Linked DNA regions of Homo sapiens. The protein of the gene in region 1 purifies or fractionates together with the protein of each later gene. This does not show direct contact. Each region holds a gene or a part of one and is shown on either strand. Other genes may lie near its edges.

Region 1 (7,033 bases):
CGCTTGTGGGTGGGACTGGTGGGGGGAGGTCTGCATGGCTACTTCTGGCTAAAGTATTTATTCATTTATTTATTTGTTGTTGTTGTTTTTTTTTTTTTGAGATGGAGTCTGGCTCTGTTGCCCAGGCTGGAGTGCAGTGGCAAGATCTCAGCTCATTGCAGCCTCTGCCTCCCAGGTTCAAGGGATTCTCGTGCCTCAGCCTCCCAAGTAGCTGGGATTACAGGCGCCCACCACCATGCCCGGCTAATTTTTGTACTTTTAGTAGAGACAGGGTTTCACCATGTTGGCCAGGCTGGTTTTGAACTCCTGACCTCAGGTGATCCACCCACCTAGGCCTCCCAAAGTGTTATGATTACAGGCGTGAGCTGCCTTACCCTGCCTGGCAAAAGTATTTAAATGCCAATTCAAGAGCCCACCTCCCAGCTCTGCTTTACTCTGGCACAACAATTGGCAATGTTCAGAGTGGAATCTTCCCATCTGCCTGGGGCCCTGAGTGATCCAAGGAGCCGAAACCTCACTGGAGGCCCTGGAGGGACAAGCAGTATGAGGTCAACCTGGGTCTCTGCAGACCCCTCAGACCTGGGGGCTGTTTGTTACCACAGCAGCACAAGGTAGCCTCTCCTGCCTCAGAATGAGCAAACACACCTTTCTGAACTCAGCCTTGCAAACTGTGATAAGAAGCAGACCAAGTGCTATGAGATAAAGAAAAATCACACTGGGGTGGGGGCAATTTAGAAAGTGTGTTGGGAAAAGATCACTTAAAGGGGGAGTTCGCCAGGGAGAAGAAAGAAGGAGAGGGAGAATGGCTCCAGGCAGGGGAGCTGCGTGTGCTTAGTGTCTGAATCAGGAAGCAGGCGGGGAGTTGGCCAGAGTGCAGAGTGAGGTTAGTGGTGAGAAATGAGGCCAGGGCAAAGTGGAGAGGGGGCAGGGAGATTGCAGAGGCCGAAGCAAAGGGTTTTCCACCCAAGTGTGTTAAATCGGAGAGTCCCCTTTAAAAAAACCTTTCCCGGCTGCTGTGTGGAGGACAGGATGGCAGGAAGCCAGAACAGAAGACCAGCTACTGCGGGAGGGAAGATCTGATTGGGATTTGAATAACATGCGGGAAGTACTCAAGGCAGCGTCAGAGACAGTGGGTGCTCAGCGGGGCAGAAGCCAGACAGTGCCGGGGTGCAGAAGCTAGGGGTTCAGGGAGCTGGGCAGGAGGCAGGAGCGCCTCTGGGAAGGGGGAAAGCAGAGCCAGCTGCCCACCATGACCAGTAGCACTCATCCCTTCTCACGGCTGCCTGAGAAGAGGCCCAGACGCGTTTCAGGTGTGGAGCAGAGGCAGGAAGCCACCTCCACAGGTGGCTCAAGCTCAGGCAGGCCTCCTACTGAATTTTCTAGAAAACTGCAACACACCATGGGAAGTCTGTCAGCCTATTCCAGATGACAATGACAATGGGGTGGCGACCCCGCTCTCCTGTCTCCTTTCAGGGAAAAGGGTCAGCAGTGGCCTCAAACTTTTGAGTATCTACTATGTGCTAGACCATCTATATGCATTATCTTATTTCATCCTTACAACCAGCAAGGTAGAGACTTCACTCCCATTTTACTGATGAAGAAACTGAGGTTCAAAGAAGTACCCCAAAACAGTCAGTGATGGAGTCAGAATTTGAACCCTAGTCTGATTCTTGAGCTCCTAACCACTCTACTGTACTGCCTCTGTGGGCCTAGCCTCAGACATCAATAATACAGAAATAATAATAATGATAAAGCAGCTACCTACTGTTTTCAGACCCTTTATCTCATTTAATCCCTAGGCAATGTACATATCGGCCCATGTTACAGATGGGGAAATGGACTTGCCAGGCTAAGCCCGGAGAAGTTCAGTGGCCTGTCCAGAGTTACACAAAATTGATGGTGGTAGAGCTAGGGTGGAACTCAAGTCCCTCTGCCTCAGCCCAAGCCCTGCCCACAGGCCACACCCCCTCCCTGGCACTCATGTCGAGACAGTGCCTGGCCTCCTGACCTCTCCAGAGGGGAATCTCACGCCCCTTCCCACTGCCTTTGCTCTCTGCAAGGCTGACTCACAGCCAGCCCAGCATTTGTCTGAACAGCAGGAAATCCTCCCAGCGCTGATGTGAACAGGAAGCATCCTCAGTTACCAACAAATATTTACTAAGCCCCACTATGTGCCAGGCACCGTGGAGGCCCTCGGGAAATGCACTAAGTCCCTGCTCTCAAGAGATGCGTGCCAGAGAGGTCCAGGGCGGTGGGTTCACTTACCCAAGGTCACTCAGTGTGTCGGTGGCAGAGCTACCATGAGGACCCAGGTCTTGGACTCCTGGGACAGATACTCCCAGATCTGACTCATGTTTCCACGTTCCCAACTGCTGGAGGGCGAGCAGGGCCGTCTACCTCCAAGGCAAACCTAGTCAGATTAGTTCTCCCTGGTGAGCCTTGGGGACAACTAATCTGACTGGGTTTACCTTGGAGGTAGACGCCCTGCTCGCCTCCGGCAGTTGGGTTTGCCTCCCAAACACATCGCTCTGTTTTGTTTTCGTCTGACTTTTTGGGTTCATGTATGTAACATGTCTGTCTCCCTCATGAGCCGTTTGCTGAGAGGGGGGACCTTGTCTGTGTCATCATGTCGTGTCCTCAGCACCTCGCACAGCACCTAGTGCTCTCTGTGTTCAATGACCACACCGTTATTTCCTCGTTTCCCTGTCCCATGTCAGCAATGCTGGGTGCTCTCCCTGCAACAAGGAAGGGGCTGACCTGCCCCCATGGGACCTGGCAGAACCCACACGGGGGCAGAGGAGCCAGGGCTGCCTGGTCAGCTCACAGAACCTGAGCACCGTGGCCAGAACCCAGATGAGCCACAGGTGCCCACTGCCAATCGAATGTCCCCTCCCTCCCTAGCCCTGCTTTTGGTGATGAGCTGGGCAGTGCCAGGGTCAGTGACTTATGCCACTATGGCCTCTCAACTGACTTTTAGTGTGAGGCCAGGAGACAGAGCAGCCCTGGGCTGAGAAACTGTTTCAGCTCCACTTCCTCCAGGAAGCCCTCTATGCTCAGCCTCATCTAGGCTCCGCCAGCTCCGAGGTACACAGTGGAAGGGACTGAGCAGTCCCCACAGTGTCTCCTGCTGACGGGGCCTGACAGCTCTGCTGCTGAGAGGTTTCACAGAAGGCAAGATGTGTCTTCCACCTGGGGAAATTCCTGTGGAGCCACAGCATAGGGACTCAGCACACTTAAACTCGTTTTAAAGGCAACAAGACTGAGGCTCAGAGAGTGGGAGGACCTTGAGTTAGAAAGTCTAATGCATACCACAGCCAGGAAGCTATTTGACTCTAAACCCGGAGGTCTAGCAGCACGCTCCCTGCATGCCACATAGCAAGGTGCTGGGTCACTGATGCTAACATCTAAACAGGGGCCAGGTGCGGTGGCTCACTCTTGAAATCCCAGCACTTTGGGAGGCTGAGGTGGGTGGATCACTTGAGGCCAGGAGTTTGAGACCTCCTCTTCACAGAGGTGGAAGGGAGGACCAGCGGGGGCAAGTGTATCCCAAGTCCCAGCTACTTGGGAGGCTGAGGCAGGAGGATCGCATGAACCCAGGAGGCAGAGGTTGCAGTGAGCCAAAATCGTGCCACTGCACTCCAGCTTGGGTGACAGAGGAAGACTCCAGCTCAAAAAAAAAAAAAAAAAAAAAGTCACTGAAGTCACCTGGTACCCAGGACTACTTCAAGGACAGCCATTGTTATGGCCAACATGGTGAAACCCTGTCTCTACTAAAAACACAAAAATTAGCCAGGCATGGTGGCGCACACCTGTAATCCCAACTACTTGGGAGACTGAGGCAGAAGAATCACTTGAACCCGGGAGGCAGAGGTTGTAGTGAGCCGAGATTGCACCACTGCACTCCAGCCTGGGCGACAGAGTGAGACTCTGTCTCAAAAGTCAAAGTAGGACCATTACCAACCATGATGATGATGCTGACCAATGGCAGCTATTGCTGCAGCACCTGCTCTGAGCCAGGCCTGCACTTGGTGTTTGAGAGGTGGGTATGGGTATAATTCTCATTTTAGAGAGGGGAAACTGAGGCACCGTGAAGTTAAATGACTCATTCAAGCTCCTCTAGCTGGAAAGTGGGAAATCAGGACTCAGACCCAGAGAGCCTGACCCCAGCTGGTGTCCAAGTTCAAATTCCTTGCTGTTCTAGCTCCCTGGTCACTAGGAGTGCAGAGGTTATCCCCCACAACTGCTCAGGGGCCTGAGAACATTAAGGGCTGAGGGCAAGCCTACCCCCAACACCTTGGGTAAATACAGATTCCAACCTCACTCTGCGCCCACAGCCTGCTCCTCTCCACCTCCCCAGCCAGACCATGGTCCTACTACCTTGCCCCGCCCCAGGGGGTACCACAGGGACCCCTTCAAGACACCTGAGCAGGTGGACAAGTCTCTCCTGGATCACAGGGCCCCCAGCCACCCAGGTCAAGCCCACCCTGAGGTTGAATGCAGGATTGGGAAGCTGCCTGGCCTCCCCTGCCTCCCTGTGTGAACACAGACCACTTCCTCTCTCTGATCCTCCCTTCCTCCTCCGAAGCAAAAGGCTTCGATGAAACTCAGTCTCCTTTGTTCCCCTCCACCACCAACTGCCATGTGAGTCAAAATGGGTAAGGCAGGCTCTTCCTAGGCACATTTTTGTTTTAACAGGTGGCTCTGGTAACTGAAAGCCACTGCAAGCCCAAAGAAGTGCAGCTGGTGGGTTTTGTGTCAGGAAGACAAAAAGGAGGAGGGAGGAGGGAGATTCTGCAGCTGGAGAGGCCTCCCAGAGTCTACTGCAACCCCCACTCCAGTCCCCAGGAAGGAAACGCACCCCTGAGGGCCTGCTGTTACCAGCCAGGCACTGTACAAAAACCAATCAGCATGTCAGTTTCCCCAAGAACCCCAAGATCTTGGTTTTGTCACCCCATTTTACAGAGGGGGAAGCTGAGTTTCAGGAGTTGTCTACCTGAGGTACCCTAGCTGCTAAGCGGCAGGCAGGAATTCAACCCCAGTACATCTGAAGCCCAGGGCTAATGCACTGGCCCACCCTGCCACCCTGATTCTAACTCTTCCCCCCACACTGCCCCCTCTTTTTTGCATAAAGTGGAATTGGCAAATGAGCAAAGCAATGAACAGCTTCTACTTGAGTGCAGGCAGATCTGGGTTCAAGTCTAGCTCTGCTGCTTGCCAGCTGTGTGACTTTGGCAAGTTCCCTCCCCTCTCTGAGTCTCAGTTTCCTCATAATAAGTGAAGTTAATAATAGGACAGGACCTTCCTCAGAGGGCTGACATAAACATTAAATGAGTCACTGTATGCAAAGCAGGACAGCGCCTCGTGCAGAGTAGACATTCAAATATGAGACAGAAAAGGCACATTGCTGATTTAGCCCCAATTCCCCTCTGCATCAGAGAGGGACAGTTTAGAAACTGCTGTCCCTTGGCCGGGTGCGGTGGCTCATGCCTGTAATCCCGGCACTTTGGGAGGCTGAGGTGGGCGGATCACCTGAAGTCGGGAGTTCGAGACCAGCCTGGCCAACAAGGAGAAACCCCGTCTCTACTAAAAATACAAAAAATTAGCCGGGCATGGTGGTGCATGCCTGTAATTCCAGCTACTTGGGAGGCTGAGGCAGAAGAATCACTTGAACCTGGGAGGCGAAGGTTGCAGTGAGCCGAGGTCGTGCCATTGCACTCCAGCCTGGGCAACAAGAGCGAAACTCTGTCTAAAAAAAGAAAAAAAGAAAGAAACTGCTGTCCCAGCCTGTACCTGTTCACTTGCCAGTCTACAGCTTCAAGGCTCTCAGATTTTGTGTAGCCCTGGCAAGTCCCTCCACTCCCTAAGCTTCAGTTTCTTCATCTGTAAATGGGGATGAAGACCCATGCCTTGTCAAGTCGTCCAGAGGATTCCGTGAGATAAAAGTTACTAGCCGGGCACAGTGGCTCACACCTGTAATCCCAGCGCTTTGGGAAGCCAAGGTGGGAGGATCACCTGAGATCAGGAGTTCGAGACCAGCTGGCTAACGTGGTGAAACCCTGTCTCTACTAAAAATACAAAAATTAGCCGGGCGTGGTGGTGGACGCCTGTAATCCCAGCTACTCCGGAGGCTGAGGCAGAAGAATGGCTTGAACTCGGGAGGTGGAGGTTGTAGTGAGCCAGGATCACACCACTGCACTCCAGCCTGGGCAACAGAGTGAGACTGCGGCACACGCCTGTAGTCCCAGCTACTTGGGAGGCTGAGGCAGGAGGATCGCATGAACCCAGGAGGCAGAGGTTGCAGGGACCCAAAATCTTGCCACTGCACTCCAGCTTGGGCGACAGAGTGAGATTCTGGCAAAAAAGAAAAAGTCACTGAAGGCACCTGGTACCCAGGACTACTTCAAGGACAGCTATTGTTATGATTATTGTAACAGGCATGTGATCAGCACTGGCCTCCAGGATGCAGAATGCCTGAGTGCCTGGTGCCACCTGTGAACATAGGCTGATAAGGGCCACCCCTGCAACCCCCCTTTCCACTTCTTCCAGTGCCCAGCAGGTGCTAAGTCAAACCAGGTGGGGGTATGGGAGGCACACCCGACAGGGCAAACTTGACTTGGGCATCCCCTGACGATGACCCTGCATGGCAGGCACACTTGAATGGGTGTTCAGAGTTCTGAGCGAAGGAATCCAAGAGTGGCCAACCTGGAGATCCAGTCGTTATCTATGAGGAACATCTGAGCCCCACCCCATTCCCACGGGACACTGACCATACAGGGGTATAGGGACCGAGGCCCTTTGTTTTGGGTTAAATGAAGGTTACTAGGTGGAGATGGTTGGGAGAAGGTGTTAAATGAAAATGCTACATAAACTGCATGATTTGCAAGTGGTTGCGGTTCTTCTGCTCAGTCTGCCGCCACTGGACTCTCTTCCCTGTGTCTAAGCCCCCAGTAAAACCCCGTATCTTGTTTGCTACCTCTTCCAAAGAAGGTAGCCTCTTGAACCTGGTGCTATATCCATTGGAGTCAATAGGGGT
Region 2 (7,033 bases), on another chromosome or scaffold:
GTTGCCCAGGCTGGAGTGCAGTGGCACTATCTCGGCTCACTGCAAGCTCCACCTCCCGGGTTCACGCCATTCTCCTGCCTCAGCCTCCTGAGTAGCCGGGACTACAGGCGTCTACCACCGCACCCGGCTAATTTTTTTTATATTTTTTAGTAGAGACAGGGTTTCACCGTGTTAGCCAGGATGGTCTCAATCTCCTGACCTCATGATCCGCCCGCCTCCCAAAGTGCTGGGATTACAGGCGTGAGCCACCGCGCCCAGCCAAAAAGCTCACATCTTAAGAAAATTCAATCTTCCTGTTCAAGCACAGGAACCATCTTCCCATTTCAGTTTCCTTCTAAGGTTCCTCAGTAAAGAACATATTTACATACTGTACATTGATATAAAATCCATACTGGATTTTATTTGAAGAATATTTAGCCCTGAAGTTGATGTGTTATGGGGCTTCGTTCTTAGTTCTCAATATACACTTTTCTATAATGTATAGAACATTGTTTTAAAATCTGTAGATTAAAAATAATCTGCTGCATTGACTTAATTAATTTTGCAAGTTAAATCACTTTAAAACAGTCTATTAGTGTTCTATGAGGGAAATTATGATTGGAAATCAGCTAAAGTTTTGTTTTTGTGTTGCTGTTCATAAAGGGCCCTGTACCCTGACCTCTCTGAGGTTTCCACATCCAGGGTGGTGTGAGGCCTGCGGAGGCGAGAAAGCCAGGTCCCCCTCCTCCCCCGCCAGGAGGGTATGTCCCCATCATCCCCCCACGTCCCACCTCCTCCCAGCCCAGGCCTGGTTACCTCTTTTGCTTGTCCTGCTTGTTCACGTCAGTGTCCCTGAGCATGACGATGAGATCCTTTCTGGGGACTTTACCCCACCAGGCAGCTCTGTGGAGCTTGTCCAGATCTTCTCCACGGACGTGGTACCTGGGCTCCATGAAGGCACTGTCATCGTAGTCTCCCCAAGCGCCCACCTTGCTCTTGCTGCTCCCCCTGCAGCAGGGGAAGCAGTGGCAGCACCACTTGCCCATCTTGTTCCTGAGTGTCTTCATAGCAGAGTCGTCGTGGTCTCCAGAAGCGCCCACGTTGCTCTTGCCACTCCCCCTGCAGCAGGGGAAGCAGTGGCGGCACCACTTGCCCATCTTGCTCCTGAGTGTCTTCATAGCAGAGTCGTCGTGGTCTCCAGAAGTGCCCACGTTGCTCTTGCCGCTCTCCCTGCAGCAGGGGAAGCAACGGCAGCACCACTTGCCCATCTTGCTCCTGAGACCAAATGGCTTCTTCACAGAAGAGGCAGCCGGCATGGAATCAACCTCAACCACCATCTGCTTTTAACAGCCAGGAGAAGCCAGTAGTAGCCAACAGATCGCGTCTACCAACCAGTTTCACCAACTAGCAGGTAACTCCGGGTTTCCAATCTGTTTGAAGAGAAAAGTCAATCCCAGCCAAAACCTGCCAACCCCAGCAGGGGATTCCAGCCCAGCCCACCCCACCCAGGGAAAACCCACACCCACCCGAGGAAAGCCCACGCCCCCCCTGGGCGACCCCACGCCCACCCCAGAAAGGGCCAACCCCCGCCCCCAAGAAAACACCCAGCCCACCCAAGGGAATGCCAAACCCAGCAGAGAAAAGGTCAAGCCCAGCAAAGGAACACGAGAGAGAAAACGTCAATCCAAGCAGGAAACGTCAATCCAAGCTACCAACGCCAAGCCAAGCCAAGAACGCAAAGCCAAGCCAAGCCGCTACAGGCCAGCCAAGCCGTTAAAGCGCGTGCAGCATGCGCGTGCAAGCCATTACAGGCCAGCCAAGCCGTTACGCGCGTGCGGCGTGCGCGTGCAAGCCGTTACAGGCCGGCCAAACCGTTATGCGCGTGCGGCGTGCGCGTGCAAGCCGTTACAAGCCAGCCAAGCTGCTGCCGGGCGTGTGCGCGCGGCGTGCGCGTGCGCGTGCGGCGTGCTTATCTCAGGTGGCGTCAGGGCACGTGGCACAGACACTGGCCGATGCATGCAACGCGCCTGCTTAAGTCTTGGCGCCACGAATGTCACTGACAGCCTTGAGTTCCGGCAAACTTCGTGGGAGTCAGCTGAGCTTTCAAGCCACTGAGAAGCCTCTGGTGAAAAAAAAAAAGCCTCTTAAAGGAGGACTGGGGCTAAGCGTCTGGAACTTGAGGATGCTGACAGCCTCCTTTGAAAAAAGCCCCCAGGACACTCCTGGCGGTGCTGTTGTGCATGGCAGCAGCTGCAGCTGGGAGCTCGGGCTGACGGAGCTGGCTGCAAATGGCCTCAAAATCGCGGAGCACAAGACGCCCACCGAGCCCAGGGCCTGCCTGAGGTGCCTTCAACACCTGCTCCTCTTTGCTCCGCACCCAGAACACGAGGCCATCAGCAAGGGGGCATTTGGGGCCACAGGATTGCAGCCAGCTCCTGCCCCGGTGCAGTGTATACAGTGTATACTGCACAGGTGTTGGGTGCACCAAAATCTCCTGAATCACCTCTAAAGAACTTACTCATATAATCAAACACCACCTTTTCCCCAAAACCCTAGGAAATAAAATGAAGAACTTTTTGTTTATGCATACCACATATTTTTTAACTTTTTTCACAGGTTCATTGAGATACAATTTATATATTATTTAATTCACTCATTTAAAGTATAAAATTCAGTTTTTTAAGTGTATTAACTAGTTAAACAATCACCATGATTTTAGAACATTTTTATGCTCCTTAAAAGAAACTTTGCACCCATTAGCAATCTTTCCCTATTTTCCCCATTCTTCCTTTAAACCTCTCCCAGCCCTAGGCAATCATCCATCTATTACCTAAGAATTTGCCTATTCTGGAAGGATTTGCCTATTCTGGACATTTCATGTAAGTGGAATCATAATAATATAGTTACGTGTGACTTACTACTTTCATTTATCATGTTTTCAATGTTCATCCTTTTTGGAGCATGTATTAATATGTTTTTCTTTTTCATTGCCAAGTAATATTTTATTTTATGGACAGACCACATTTTATTAATCCACTCCAAAATTCATGGACATTTCTGTTGTTTCCTACTTTTTGTTGCTATAAATACTTTTATGTGTAAGGCATTTGTTTTAATTTATTTTTGGTGTATACATAGGAGTGAATTTACTGAGTCATGTGGTAATTCTGTATTTAACCTTTGAAGAACGGCTTCATTTTTCTGCATGTGGCTTGCCAATTATACCAGCAGCATATGTTGAATAGGGTGTCCTTTCCCATTTTCTTGTTTGCTTTGTCAAAGATTAGGTAGTCTGATGCCTCCAGGTTTGTTCTTTTTGCTAAAGATTGCTTTCGTTTTTCAGCATCTTTTGTGGTTCCATTCAGATTTTAGGACTAATTTTTCTATTTCTGTGAAGAATGACATTGGAATTTGACAGCGGTTGCATTTAATCTGTAGAATGCTTTGAGTAGCATTGAAATTTTGACAATATTAATTTTTTCAATTGATATAGGACTTTTTCTATTTGTCACTTTCAATTTCTTTCATCAATGTGCTATAATTTTCAGTATACAAATCGTTCACATCCTTCATTAAAATTACTCCTTGCTCTTTGATTTACTTATATATTTGTTTTGTTGCTATTATAAATGGAATTACCTTATTTTTCAGATAACAGTTTGTCATTGGTGTATAGAAGCCAATGTTAATTTTGTAACTCTCAACTTTATTGAATATAGTGTTTATCAGCTGTAATGGGTTTTTTGTGGAGTCTAAAACACAGACAATCTCACCCCTTCCCTTCCTATTTAGATGCCTTTCCTTTCTTTGCCTTGTATAATTACTCTGGCAAGTCAGTTACATATAACGTTCTCAGCATTTGTAATTTGACATCAAATCCATCTGTTGTAATACACTGATTGTTACTTTTCAACTCGAAAACATGGACATTTATCACTACTCTCCCTTTCTCTTGGTCTAGTTGTTATTTAAAAAAAAACCTATCAATGCAAACCAGGATATTTTTCTACAAAACAATTTCAAACACACTAAAAGGTTTTAATCTAACAATTTTTAAACTTTCTTTGTCAATGACTTTGAACTGTGGTCTCTCGGAACAAATCCAACACCTTTAGTAGAAAAATTATGTTAATTCCTACATTATCATTGGGTCTAGCCAAGAGTTGACCAAAGGTGATATTAACAGATATGCTTATTTATTACCTTGTTCTCAAAGTTCTAGCATAAGTCTTGAAAAATCTAGTAAAAATTTGTAAAGACTATAATTGCACAAACTCCCTCTCTCATGAGTCACACAGTTAATCCAGAATACTATTTCTAAGTTATTGGAAAGCCAACAAGTAAATATGATGTAGTGTATAAAAATAATCCTAATTTCATTGTATATTCTGTAAGTGACATATGCAATTGATACTATTTACTAAATATCTCATAATTATATTTATTTACATAGAAAAAAGGAATAAAAAACATATCTATTATCTAACATTTAAATGATTAAAAATACTTGAGATAGCATTGCTACATAAATGCTATGTAAATGCTGAAGAAAGTAAAAATGTCATTCCCTACATTTGCTAAATATATTGTGACACATTATAAGCATTTTTAAAATATATCACTAATGGTTGGGTCAAGTCAGCAAAAATGATTCTAAGTATTTAATTGTGGAAAAATTTAGTACAGGGGATAGTATTCATGTGATGGAAGGATTTTAAATGGAACCCAGAGATTAGCAGCAGCAGTAAGTTTTAATTGCATACCAGGTGCAGAGTCTAGGATACAAGACAGAACTGCAGATAAAATCTGACTCCTTCCAGCATAGCTAGGAGACATGGCTAACTCCACCTGTCCGGAGACCTTACCTAGAAATCTAACGGCTCCAAACCAGGTAAACAAAACTATTTTCCAAAGTCAAAGCATCAATTTATGACATTAAAGCACTTCTAAAACTTAACCTCTGACTTAAGTTAGACCAAATGGATAAATTTTGAAGATATTTTTATTTTACCACTGACTTTAACACCATCTTTATTTCCCAAAGATTACTGAAGTCACATGAAATAAAAGGCATTAGAGCTTCTATTTTTCTTACAAAATATTTAAGAGCTTTCATTTTCTTTTAAGCCGAGCCATTATATATACATCACATACACAACACTTCTAGACAAGAAAAGATCTAGCAGTTGTTCAGTTTTTCTTTCCCACTTTATGAATCATAACACAACTTCCACAGACTATCTACAACATGATTAAATTTATCTGACCTGTCCTGTATTTCCCTCTTTTGTAATTAGTCATTCTACTTTAGGACAACAATTTGCCATATAAGATCCTCTCTCATATAACATTTCTTTCCTTCATAACATTTCTTACAATAAATACATCTTCATATCCACAATTTTCTTTAGATCTCTCTCCCCTACTAATTTCTGATGCCCATCCAAACCAAAAAGGTCAGACAACGCAAGGCAAAACAGAGCAGAGCCTTAGATTTTTGAGAGGGACCTGTCTGCTTAAAGTTCTTGGGGTTCCATGAGGAAAACAGAGGTTTCTCCTAAAATGGGGTTTGTGGAACCTTCTGTTTTTCCTTAAGGAGTCCCAGGTTGTCAGAAATTACCTTAGATCCTCTCATGTGGGCATCAAGAGTGGCAACAAGAGAGACTGGGGTAATAATTCAGACAACTGAGCAGAAAAAGAAAAACTTACTACTGTCCCCACTGTAATGATGGATAAACTGAGGCACCATGCAGTTCAAAAATTCATGTTCACATAATTAGGATCCACAGCTCACTCTCTTAAATAATTTTGCCACCTCTATGCCCAGTCACTGATGCACCTGTATGGTAGCTCATGGCCCCCTTGGAACTTAGAACCTGGGTTTCATTCCTGCTCTACGGCTATATAATTCAACAATTTTCCTTTGAATTTGTTGGACTCTAACCCTGTATATCTCAAATTTTATTAGTATTACTGAATCTTAAAGGGAGCTGTGACGTCTTTAGTCTTTAGAAATATTAAACCTATAAACAAGGACTATATGAGGTTAAACAGTATTCAAATTTCTATATGCTTTAAAACATGGACACAATGTATTGAGAAACACACCTACAAAACTGCACCCCATCAACTCTGGACAAAAATTTAGATATTATCTCTTCAATATAACCTATCTAGTGGTATTTATACATATTCTTCCATGTATCAACGGTATATTACATGCTCATAACCTTAAAAATAACAAGTGTTCAAATTATAGGCCTTACACATTTCTACGGGCTTGAAAAATGATACAATATAGATTGTCTTTAAAGCAGTCAAGAAAATGCATAAACTTCTAGAGGAATCAGTAAAATAAAGATAAAAAGTTCACACCTAAAGTAGTAATACTAGGAATAAAAGAGGGCTCGACACTGCAGGTTCTTAGATACAAAAGTTAATAAAGCCTTGTTTTTGGTTGTGAATCTTTGCCTTAAAATACACACAGCTGACCGAGGTGGGTGGATCACCTGAGGTCAGGTGTTCTAGGCCAGCCTGGCCAACAGGGTGAAACCCCATCTCTACTAAAAATACAAAAAGTAGCCGGGCGTGGTGGCAGGCACCTATAATCCCAGCTACTCAGGGGGCCAAGGCAGGAGAACTGCTTTCACCCAGGAGGCAGGGGTTGCAGTGAGCCAAGATCGGGCCATCGTACTACAGCCTGGGGGACAAGAGCGAGACTTCATCTCAAAAAAAAAAAAAATTACACACAATTCTCCCGACTTCCTTTTTCTCTTGCAAAGAGGTGGTGATGAACCAGGTTTGCTCAGGCAGATGACAATACTCTTGAAAATGGTGGCAGAGAGCCAGGCGTGGTGGCTCACACCTCCAATCCCAGCACTTTGGGAAGCTGAGACAGGTGGATCACTTGAAGTCGGGAGTTCAAGACCAGCCTGACCAACATAGAGAAAACCCATCTCTATTAAAAACACAAAGTTAGCTGGGCATGGTGGCACATGCCTGCAATCCCAGTTACTCAGGAGGCTGAGGCAGGAGACTTGCTTGAACCCAGGAA

What was found. The genes of interacting proteins can lie anywhere in the genome.
Region 2: the proteins of ADA (region 1) and POTEF purify together in Homo sapiens (affinity purification with mass spectrometry; 3 studies listed by BioGRID and IntAct, with this or other methods). This does not show direct contact.

What each region holds. Positions count from the first base shown.
Region 1 is NC_000020.11:44,641,688-44,648,720, forward strand, and holds part of ADA (adenosine deaminase), read right to left. Parts: intron 1-7,033.
Region 2 is NC_000002.12:130,119,200-130,126,232, forward strand, and holds part of POTEF (POTE ankyrin domain family member F), read right to left. Parts: intron 2,100-7,033; exon of another isoform or gene 1,410-2,099; 5' UTR 1,317-1,409; coding exon 796-1,316; intron 1-795.